Linked DNA regions of Homo sapiens: region 2 is linked to region 1. The links come from fine-mapping of genetic effects on gene expression. Tissue or cell type: tibial nerve. Region 1 holds a variant in brackets; the other region holds the start of a gene. All regions are shown on one strand. Distances are from middle to middle.

What was found. PIP is the estimated chance that this variant, and not a neighbour inherited with it, causes the effect.
Region 2: TSPAN15 starts here. The variant in region 1 is fine-mapped to the expression of TSPAN15 in tibial nerve (GTEx, PIP above 0.99). The same link has a PIP of 0.9 or more in amygdala, caudate, neural progenitor cells, nucleus accumbens, putamen and spinal cord.

What each region holds. Positions count from the first base shown.
Region 1 is chr10:69,492,250-69,497,931 of GRCh38, forward strand. TSPAN15 (tetraspanin 15) reads left to right here. Exons shown (of 8, transcript NM_012339.5): 4 at 3,345-3,440. Among named protein-coding and RNA genes, the nearest start is that of TSPAN15, 44 kb to the left of the region's middle. The variant C/T (reference allele first, on the strand shown) is at 2,516.
Region 2 is chr10:69,448,863-69,453,862 of GRCh38, forward strand. It overlaps TSPAN15 (tetraspanin 15), which reads left to right and starts at 2,603. Exons shown (of 8, transcript NM_012339.5): 1 at 2,603-2,828. The coding sequence starts at 2,733. RefSeq lists enhancers at 1,006-1,624, 1,625-2,242, 2,192-2,331, 3,123-3,623 and a silencer at 2,452-2,761.

The DNA of each region.
Region 1 (5,682 bases):
CCCTGGTCTCTCGGAACATTACCAGTGCTGTCAACGGCGGCATAGCACTTTACAGTTAAACTGCACAGCCAGCTTGCCTCACGGGATCTTCTCACACACACCCACCCCCAACCATCGCCCCTCACAGCACAGGAACCATCTCAGTGTCCTCGTCTCCCCGGTACACATACACACGTGCACACACATACAAGTGGTGCACACTTGCAAGAACCAGCATGCCTCAAAGAGCTCCCTGATGGGGGTTGGGGGCAGCTGCTGTCCATGAAGCCCAGGGACATCTGTTGCTCCTGCAGGGCCCCCCTTCCCCCAACAACAGGGCTCAGCTTACCAGATGAAAGGCCGAATTTTTCCAGGCCCCTCTCGAAGCCCGAGCCTTGGAAAGTGCCCAGGAGGCGGGATGGTTTGGGGAGGCGGGATGGTTTGGGGAGGCAGGCTGGGGCTGCTCACCAGAGAGGCAGAGCCTTTCCCCACAGCCACAGAGCAGCCTCTACTCTGCCACTTCCCCTCCTTCCTGCCCTGGGCTTCCCACCTTCATCCCACCCTGTTGGCAGCCCTGGGAGAGTCCAAACAGCACAGTGGCCAGTGGGGGTGCTGTAAGTGGGCCAGTGGGCCCGGGTAGGTGCAGAGGGACATGGTGGGCCAGGACTGTGTCTGTGGTGCCTTGAGAGTAGGGGGAAGCCACCCGGGAGGAACCTCCCCACGTGTGGCCTTAGGCAAGGCCCTGACCCTGGCGGCACCCCATGAGTACGTAGCTCAGCCAATCATGTCGTTCAGTGCTGTAAGCTCATTCCCCTGCCCCACCCTGGGTGGCAGACTGGCCCCACCCTGGTATCCTGTTTTTTAGGCACCCCCAACCACACCCCAGCCAGCTGGCCTGTCCCTTCATCACCCAGAGGAGCAGGCACCCAAGGATGGAAAAGCTTTGTGACCTGGGGGCCTCTGGGAGGTGGGCCTGGGGCCAAGAGAGTCCTTGTTCTGCCCAGGCTGCTCGGCTGGAAGGCAATGCTCCCACCCAACTTCTGCCCCGGGGGCCAGTGCCAGGTCCGCGAAGGGCCATGGGCTGGTGAGTTGACAGCTGCTCACAGGAGCCTGCATCTCCTCTCTTCTCTTGGGGCTGACTCCAGTCTTCTGCAATCCCAGGCCTGCTCCAGAGCTGCTGTTTATCATCAGCAGAGGACTTTCCTTCTGGCCACGAAGGCCAGTTTCTCCGAGCCCATCTCCTTTTTTTTTTTTTTTTTTTTGAGACAGAGTCTTGCTCTGTCACCCAGTCTAGAGTGCAGTGGTGCCATCTCGGCTCACTGCAACCTCTGCCTCCCAGGTTCAAGCGATTCTCCTGCCTCAGCCTCCCGAGTAGCTGGGACTACAGGCGCACGCTGCCACGCCTGGCTAATTTTTTGTATTTTTAGTAGAGACGGGGTTTCACCGAGTTAGCCAGGATGGTCTTGATCTCCTGACCTTGTGATCCGCCTGCCTTGGCCTCCCAAAGTGCTGGGATTACAGGCGTGAGCCACTGCGCCAGGCCGCCCTGCTAATTTTTGTATTTTCAGTGGAGGCAGGGTTTCATCATATTGGTCAGGCTGGTCTCGAACTCCTGACCTCAGGTGATCTGCCCACCTCGGCCTCCCAAAGTGCTGGGATTACAGGCATGAGCCACCGCGCCAGGCCTCCATCTCCTTCTTTACCTTGGCTTTGAGCAGAGCGAGGCTCGGGGAGGAGGTGGGTGCTGCAGTCTTTGTTCCTCTTTTCCTGATCCTGGAGATAATTTTGGGAGATGGCCCCAAACCTGAACCTTGGTTTCTTAGCACCTTAAAGTGTGTCAGGCTGGGAGTTTGACACCCTGGTCCCAGCGTCTCTCTGCCAGTGGTGTGCTGGGCAACCTCGGACTAGCCACATCGCTCTCTGGGCTGCAGGGTGTTGTGAGAGTGGGGTTGGCCAGGACTCGTGCCTCAGAGGCTGCCTCCATTGCAGTCAGTTTTTTGAACAAGAGTTGGGGCCTCGGTTTCCCACGGGATTTGTTTTCCACCAATGACGTGGGTGTGAAGTAGTACCATAGAGTATTTGTCTCCTTTAAAAACAGACAAAAATCTTGAATAATAACACCAGGACCTACAATGTGCCTGGTGTCCTGCTAAACACCTTCACAGCTTTTGTTTATTTAAATCTCACAACATCCCTATGAGGCAGAGAGTGTTTTCCTCCTGATTTTGCAGGTGAGCAAACAGAGGCTCAGAAGTTAAAAGAAGTAGCGGAGGCCCAGGTGGCTGTAGGGAGGTGTCCTTGATTATGAGGCTTGACAGCCCCTCTGAGACTTGGTTTTTGATTCTCAGAGCTCGAAGTTACCTTAAAGATAGGCCTACGGGTTTGGTTCACAGTTGGGAAGCTGAGGCCCAGAGAGGAGAAGTAAGCCGCGATGGGGCCTGGAACCAGGATCCTGTTGTCCCAGCGTACGCTGTGGTGCCACCCCCGGGAATTGTCTGGCTCTTCAGTCTGGCACCGGAGCCGAGAATGCCCCCTT[C/T]GTCCCCAGTCTCTGCTGATACTCGACCTCCGTGCTCTGAAAGCTGCGATTGTTACAGTGAGCTGGGCTGCCCACGCTCCTGCCCCCGCCCCTTCCCACTGTGGGGCCCTTTGTGCTTCTGGGTCTCAGCACAACAGCCGGGCTGTTGATCCAGAAAGCGCAGCGTGACTGGGAGAGGGCGGCCTGCCATGTTCCTCCCGGCAGGGATTGTCCCAGCCCTAGCCGAGGGGGACCGAGTGCTGCAGTGATGAGGAGAACAGCCCATGAGGGAGGTCAGGAGACCTGAATTCCAGTCCTGGCAAGACCCCACCCAGCCTGCTCTGTGACCTCACTCCCTCCCCAAGTCTCGAGCTCCTCATCTGTAAAACAAGAGGCTGGATGGTGGAGGAGTGTGGAGAGGGGCTCTGGAGGGCAAAGGGAAGATTCCAGCGTGGGCCCATCCCTGGGCGGTAGAAAGAGCACTGGGCCTGGAACCAGGACAGCCAGGTCTCAGCTCAGGCATGGCGGCATCAGAGCTGTGTGTCCCCAAGCACGGCCCCAGCCTCTCAGGGCCTGGGCTGTCTGGTCTGCAAAGGGAGTGGAGTGAATTACTCCTGCTGGGACATAGCACAGGCACTCAGGCATCAGATGAACACTGGAGGCACGGGGAGGATGTGTGGGTAGGGAGGTCACGGGCATCCAGGGTGGGGAGTGGAGGGGGCTCCATGCTGGCTGGGCGCGAGCTGCATTGGCACAAGGCATTCTCTACCCATCCAGGCTTCTGGAAAACCTTGGGTTGGACTCCGGGAGTGTGTGGTTCTTTTCCTTTGTAATTTCTCCTTTTGAATAGACCATTGACTTCCTGAACGACAACATTCGAAGAGGAATTGAGAACTACTATGATGATCTGGACTTCAAAAACATCATGGACTTTGTTCAGAAAAAGGTGAGCCAGGCGCTTTGGGGTAGAGATGCGCCTCCCGTGCTCTTAGCCCCCCATTCAGGCCCCTGCTCAAGAAGATGGGGTGAGGGACCAGGTGACTTATCCATTCCCAAAGCAGGTGGCTGGCCAGATTGGGAGGCAACAGTGAGCATGGATGGCCCACCAAGGATGGGGAAGCCAGGGCCCAACCTATTCAGCCAGTCCTCTGCCCACATTCCTGACCCAAAACCTTCACACCCTTCTGTTCCTCTCCAGTTACACTGGCTTCCTGCCCCATACCCCCAAATAAAACAAAGTCAGGTGTTGCTACAAGCAACCTTGCAGGGTCCCAGGGCACCACCCTCCAATGGGCAAGGATCCTCCTTCCTTGAGGTGTGAGCAACCTCAAGGGGAGTAACCTACCCCAGTCCAAAGCCCCCTCTGCCAAGTCTCTTCAGTGACAACTCACTCCTTGTCAAGTTAAAGACATCCCTGATTGGGAGAAAGTTCTTCACTAATTTCAGTTTCCCCCAAATATGGGACAGTGAACCAGACGCCTCTCTTACTTTCATGACACTTCCTTGAATGTGATGATGATCCTATTCCTTTTGGGACACCATCTCTCCCCTCTAGGTCCACCCAAATCTGTTGGTGCAATAATAATAATAATAATAATAATAATAATAATAATAATAATAATAATAATGGCAGTGGTAGGGCCAGCTGCTGTCCTGGGTGGCTTTTGTACATCAACTTCACTTGGTCCTGAGCCTCAGCTTCCTCACCTACATAAGGGGAATAATGACAGGAGCTCTTGGGGCGTCGTCATGAGGATTACCTTGACTTAATTCAGGAGACGTGCTTAGAACAGTGCCAAGCACAGGGTGAGACCACAGTGCCAGCTGTGGGGATCATTGGTATGTTCTCCTGGGTGAGGACAAGTAGAGTGAGGGCTGCAGGCCCACTCAGCCGGGACAGCACTTCCTGGGACATAATCTTGGGGGCCTCAGCTGGCCTGGATCCTTGTGCCAGCTCTCAGTGGGGACTAGCCTCTCCCCACATGCAGGGCCACTTGCTGTGGCCGCTCCCTTGGCCCAGACTTTCTCTTCAGTCACAACAGGTGCAGCCTCTGGAAGGTCTTTTTCTGCCAGGGATGTGCCTGCCAGCTTGGGCTGGGAGAGCTGACTTCTGCTCCGGGTGGAGTGAGATGTTTTTATTGGAACCAGCCTTTAGCTGGCTTGGGGATTTCATTTCTCCTGGCATAGAGGTAGGAGGTGATTAATGCTGAATGGGCACTTGCTTGGTGCCAGGTCCAGTGCTGAGTGCTTCATGCATGGCACTCTATGTAATCACAGCTCAGCTGTGCAGAGCTGCCATCCTTATTCTTGCTTTACAGACAACCATCTGAGGCTCAGAGAGGCTGACCAACTTGCCTGAGGTTGCACAGCAGGGAGTGGTGGTCTGAGGATTTGACCTTGGGTCTGTTCCATTGCAAGACAAATGCCCTTTGAACTACATTGCAGAAAGACAGTTCTAGGTCCCAAAACCTGGTGGCTTAAGGGGCACTGTGGGGACTCTGAAAGGTGTCTGGCTACCAGGACGTGTACTGCAGCCCTGGTTGAGCCCTCCAGTCCCAGCTCCCTGCTTCAGCTGGCTGGCAAAGCTTTGCATGGTCCAGCCTGTGCCGCCCTTTCATCCTCATGCTCTGCACTCTCTCTGTTCCAGGCTTGTTGGCCTCCGCACCTGCTGCTGAAATACAAGCTTGTTTCTGCGTGGGGCCTTTGCATGGGTCGTCTGGCTTCTTTCTGTTTCCATGTTTCAGATGAAATATCCTCTCTACAAAGAGCCCTTTCATGACCTGCCAACCTAGAGCTGCCCCTCCCCACTTTCCCCCTATTTCTCCATTTCCAGGTTGCACAGCACCTTTCCATCCAGTGCTCACTCTCTGTCTCTCCACTGGAATGTGTTCCACCTGAGCAAGGGCTGCCTTGCTTTTGCTCACCCTGTCTCTCCAGTGCCCAGGACAATGCCAGGCACATACCAGCCATCAGGAGGGTTACCAACTACTTCCTACAGGAGCAGGGAGGGGAGGCAGGGAGGGGCTCGGCTAAGGGGAGAGCTCCAGGCAGGTTGTGAGGTGTGGGTGCTCTCCTTGCTAAGGGCAGGGCCAGCTGAGCTGGACGGGGTGGCTCCTAGGGTGGGTGCGAAGGTTGGTTGAGGTGCAGGGACTTTCACAGAATCATGCTTGGTCTCTGGGACTTTAAGG
Region 2 (5,000 bases), 44 kb before region 1:
TCCAAGCTTCTATGGGTGGGGAAGAGACTAGCACCTCAAATAATGGGTGTGGACTTAGCTCTGCAGGGCTGGGTGGAGGCTCTAGCCCTCAAAGAGGAATAAAAAGTTAGTCTTCCTCCTCAAAGGACAGAAAGGACAACTTTTTTTTTTTTTGGGGACCGAGTCTCGCTCTGTCATCCAGGCTGGAGTGCAGTGGCACGATCTTGACTCATTGCAACCTCTGCTATCCAGGTTCAAGTGATTCTCCTGCCTCAGCCTCCCGAGTAGCTGGGATTACAGGCACCCATCACCATGCCCGGCTAATTTTTGTATTTTTAGTAGAGCCAGGGTTTCACCATGTTGGCCAGGCTGATCTTGAGCTCCTGACCTCGAGTGATCCCCCTGCCTTGGCCTCCCAAAGTGTTGGGATTACAGGTGTGAGCCACCGCGCCCGGCCAGAATGGACAACTTTTAACACTATGGTAAGATGCCTTCTTGGCCCTCAGATAATCATTTGAGGGCAGCTTGCATTACTCTCTGGTTCTCTTTCCACCTTTTCTTTTCCCTGTTGTTTTTTTTTTGAGACAGGGTCTTGCTTTGTTGTCCAGGCTGGAGTGCCGTAGCACAATCATAGCTCACTGCAGCCTTGATCTTTTGGGCTCGAGAAGTGATACCCCCACCTCACCCTCCCAAGTAGCTGGGACTACAGGCACGAGACACCATGCTTGGCTAATTTTTTTGATTTTCAGTGGAGATGAGGTCTTGCTACGTTGCCCAGACTGGTCTGAAACTCCTGGACTCAAGCAAACCTCTCACCTTGGCCTCCCAAAGTGCAGGGATTACAGGCATGAGCCACTGTGCCTGGCTCTGGTTCTATTTCTCTACCCCACACAAACATCCTCCCAAGGTTTGTTTGTTTTGTACCAGGAAATTGGTTTCCTTTTACCCTTCCAGGCATGGCACTGCCTCCCTCCCCACCCCCCAATCTTGCTTTCTTCCTCCTAGGGCAGAGCTCTGGGGGCTAAAGCCAGCCTGGACTAAGTCTCTGAGTCTGTCCTTCTCTGTTGAGTTTGTGTATGCAGGAGCCCTGGGAACCCAGGACTGGGGACTTGTATAAGAGTGTCGTTCCTGAAATCACCACCAGGGACCCCACCCAGCACTGCTAGAGCTTATGACCTCTGCCATGGATTTAATTACTGAAGGCCACAGCAGGGATTGTCTGGCTCCCAAGTCCCAGGCTGAGCTAGGCTTGGGAGACAGGAAACAACAGTGAGTAAAGCTGGGACCATCTAGCATGAGAGACAGGCTCACAGCCACCTCTGGTCCCAGGCTGAGAAAAGGCCAGGTGGGAGGAGGCTGGGTTAGTGGCTGGCTATGTGCAAGAGAGGGAGCTGCCTCCCTCACCTATAGTTTCTGTTTGTTTGTTTTTTGTTTTTTTGAGATGGAGTCTCCCTTTGTCACCCAGGCTGGAGTGCAGTGGCGGGATCTCGGTTCACTGTAACTTCCGCCTCCCGGGTTCAAGCGATTCTCCTGCTTCAGCCTCCCCAGTAGCTGGGACTACAGGCATGCACCACCCTGCCCGGCTAATTTTTTTTGTATTTCTTAGTAGAGACAGGGTTTCACCACGTTGTCCAGGCTAGTCTCGAACTCCTGACCTCAAGTGATCCGCACGCCTTGGCCTCCCAAAGTGTTGGTATTACAGGCGTGAGCCACCGTGCCCGGCCTTGTTTTTGTTTTTGTTTTGGAGAGAGGGTCTCACTCTGTCTCCCAGGCTGGAGTGCACTGGCACAATCACGGCTCACTGCAGCCTTGACTTCCCTGACTCAAGCGATTCTCCCGCCTGTCTCCCAAGTAGCTGGGACAACAGGCGCGCCACCGTGCCTGGCTTTTTATTTTTTTTAATTATAGAGTCGGCGTTTTGCCATGTTGCCCAGGCTGGTCTTGAACTCCTGGGGCTCAAGCCATTCGCCCTCCTCAGCCTCCCAAAGTGCTGGGATTACAGGCGTGAGTCACCGCGCCAGGCCTTCAACCTAGTTTGAAGATGGGGTTTCCCGGGAGGAACCCTTCCCAAGGCTGGGTTATCACCTGGCAAAAGAAGGGGACTTCCGAGGTCGTTTGGTGAAGGCCTTCAGCAGATCTGTTTCACGAGCAAACTTCAGACTCCAGCTCCATGGGGGCCTATTAGCCCCACCCTGGTCTGCCTCCCTGAGCCTTCCTGAGCCGAGCAACTCCACTTCCTTATTCCATTCACGTTTAGCACACTCATTTGCACTTTCAACACCTGGGCGATTAATTCTTGCCCTTTTCCCAAAGTTTTCCCTCTTGACAAGAGGAAAGCTTGCATTTCTATGTACCCCGATTAGGCACGCTCGCTCTCTCCTTAGAGCACCTCTGGTTCACCTCTCCCACGCCCCCTGCATTAGCACAGGCGTTTCCAGAGTTGCACGCGAGCTCATTTGCAAGACCGTCTCCCCCTCCCATCCCTTCTTGGTCCCCTCTAGGGCCCAGGGCAGCAGCCCCGCCCCTGGCCCGCCCCCTCCCAGACGCTAGGCAGCCGCGGCCTCCCATTGGCCGCCAGGGCTGGCAGGCTTCCCGGCTGGGGCTGTGATTGCCGCGCTCCAGTGTCAGTCCCGGAGAGAACGCCGGTGGCGGGGCTGGTAGCCCGGCAGCCGCAGGTGGGGCCACGAGCGCTGGCTGAGGGACCGAGCCGGAGAGCCCCGGAGCCCCCGTAACCCGCGCGGGGAGCGCCCAGGATGCCGCGCGGGGACTCGGAGCAGGTGCGCTACTGCGCGCGCTTCTCCTACCTCTGGCTCAAGTTTTCACTTATCATCTATTCCACCGTGTTCTGGGTGAGTGACCCCAGTAGGGCCCGGGGATGGGGGTGGGGACCCACAATCCGGCCGCCCCCTCACTGGCCCGGGGTTGGGTCCACACTTAGCCGCTCCAGGGAGTGCGCGGGTGAGCGCGCGCGGACTCCTTGTCTTTCTACCTCACATTCGGGCGGCCAGAGCTCAGCCTGAATTTTCAGCCGCCCTTTCGGGAGTGTGAGAGCCGGTTGTCGACCGACCGAGTGCCACCTGGCTCACCTGTGTGCACCGGCTGGGCGGTTTGCCCGCTGTGCGTCCGCTGGCCGGCTGGCTAGGCTGAGGTGAACGCGCTGGCCGCGCCCACCACGCCTACCCGGTAGGACTGACTGCCTCTGCATCGGCCTGTGGAGCTTAAGTAGTTAGGATTTGCAGTCGGGGTTGGGAGACCTGGATTCCGGGTCTGGTCCCTGCTAGTTACTTGCTGATGCCCCTGAGCGAGACGCTTCCCCGCTCCGTCTTGGTTTCCTCTTTGGTGGATGCACGTGCCTCCTGCGTGGCGAGGAGAAGTCCACCAGACGACGTCTCCTGCACACCTAGGTGCTCAGTTTCCGCTGTCGCTGGGCTTTACCTCCTCCTCTGCCTTGTTAGGGGGCAGGATGGTAGTGTTTAGACATGAACCAAGCTTTGAATTCCGTCGCTCCGAGTGGTCTTTTATTTTATATTTTATTTTTTATTTAAAACATTGCTAATCTCTGTATCGTTCCAATTTCAGTTTGTGCGTTTCTGAAATGAGCACTTGCTGAGTGATCTTGGGGAAGTTACTTCATTCCTCTCGGCCATGGTTTCCTCATCTGTAAATGGACACAGTAATTATATTCAACTTGTAGGATGCTCGCGGAGATTACGTGAAATAGGCCGGGTATGGTGCCTAGTGAAGAGCTCAAGAAGTGTGAGACATTATTACTATCGTGGGCAGGGAATTTGGACACCTGTGGTGTAAGCTGCCCCAAGAGATTGGGTTTCTGTAAGGGCGTTTCATATTAGGCTGGGCCCTATTCTAGAGATGAGGATATCTTCCTATAGGCCAGCTCCGCCCCTGTCACTCCAGAATCGCTCTCTGCCTGCAGTATGCCACAAGAGCAGACTTGCCCAGGGACCCAGGGTGGTCACTGACACCCCATTCCCACCAAATACACACACTCTCCCCTGGTGTCCTCCTTAGCCCCTTGCTGGGTCTCTTCTGCTAGCAGGAGCTGCTGGATTTGCCATCAGGACTGGCTTTCCCTGTGACCCCTTTGTGGGTGGGGCCTTGCCTGGTAATCGGAGATCCAGATTCAGCTCTGTTACTGACTTATGGATATCTTAGGCAAGTCACTTTCCTGTTTTGGGCCTCAGAACTGTTCATTGACTTTTCCATCTAGAAGACTAGTCTGAGGCCAGTTTCCAATCCAATTCTCTGACTCTAGGTAATGTGGAGGAGAGATGAACAGTATGTTTGGGGGGCGGAGGATGGAGCAAGGACCTGTTGGTGGAAGCTCTAGGGAGACAGAAGGTCATATGTGGGATGGGAGTGGGGGTGATTTGAGCTATAAATCAGCGGTTGCATCAGATTCTTGTGCCCTGGCATAGGTATTTATTTAAATTTACATAAGCTTAATTGTAGTAAATTACTTACTAGAATTAAGGTAATTCTAGTGTGCAGTCAGTATTGAAAACTGCTGCCCTAGATGGTCTCATAGGTCCCCTAAGTCCCCAGGATTTCTGTGCCTGCCCCTTGTGTGTTCTGTGAGCCCTTCTCTCTGTAAATCAGAGTTGAAAGAGCCTAAGGTTGATGGGTGGGGAGGTAGGAAGATGGAGTTGTATTTTGGGCTTCACCCCTTCCCCAGATATATAATCACAAACCAGTCTCTCTACCTCCTCACGTTTCCATTTTCTCATCTATAAAATGAATAAGTGAATCTCTGCCCTGTACCTCACTGAATTGTTTTAGGATTAGTGATATGGGGAAAGAGTGACATATGAGCAAAATCAGTGCAGTACAAACATACCTCATGCAGTTAAATAAAACTGAACTCTAATTTTTAAGGCTTTGTTCTGTCACTGTCCTTTGCAGCCCCCAGAGAAGCCCACCCAATGGCCCTTGCCTTGCTTCTCTTGGGCAGGGTGGTTCTCAGAACTTGGAATCCCTCCTCTGCCAACTGAGGTTGCCTTACC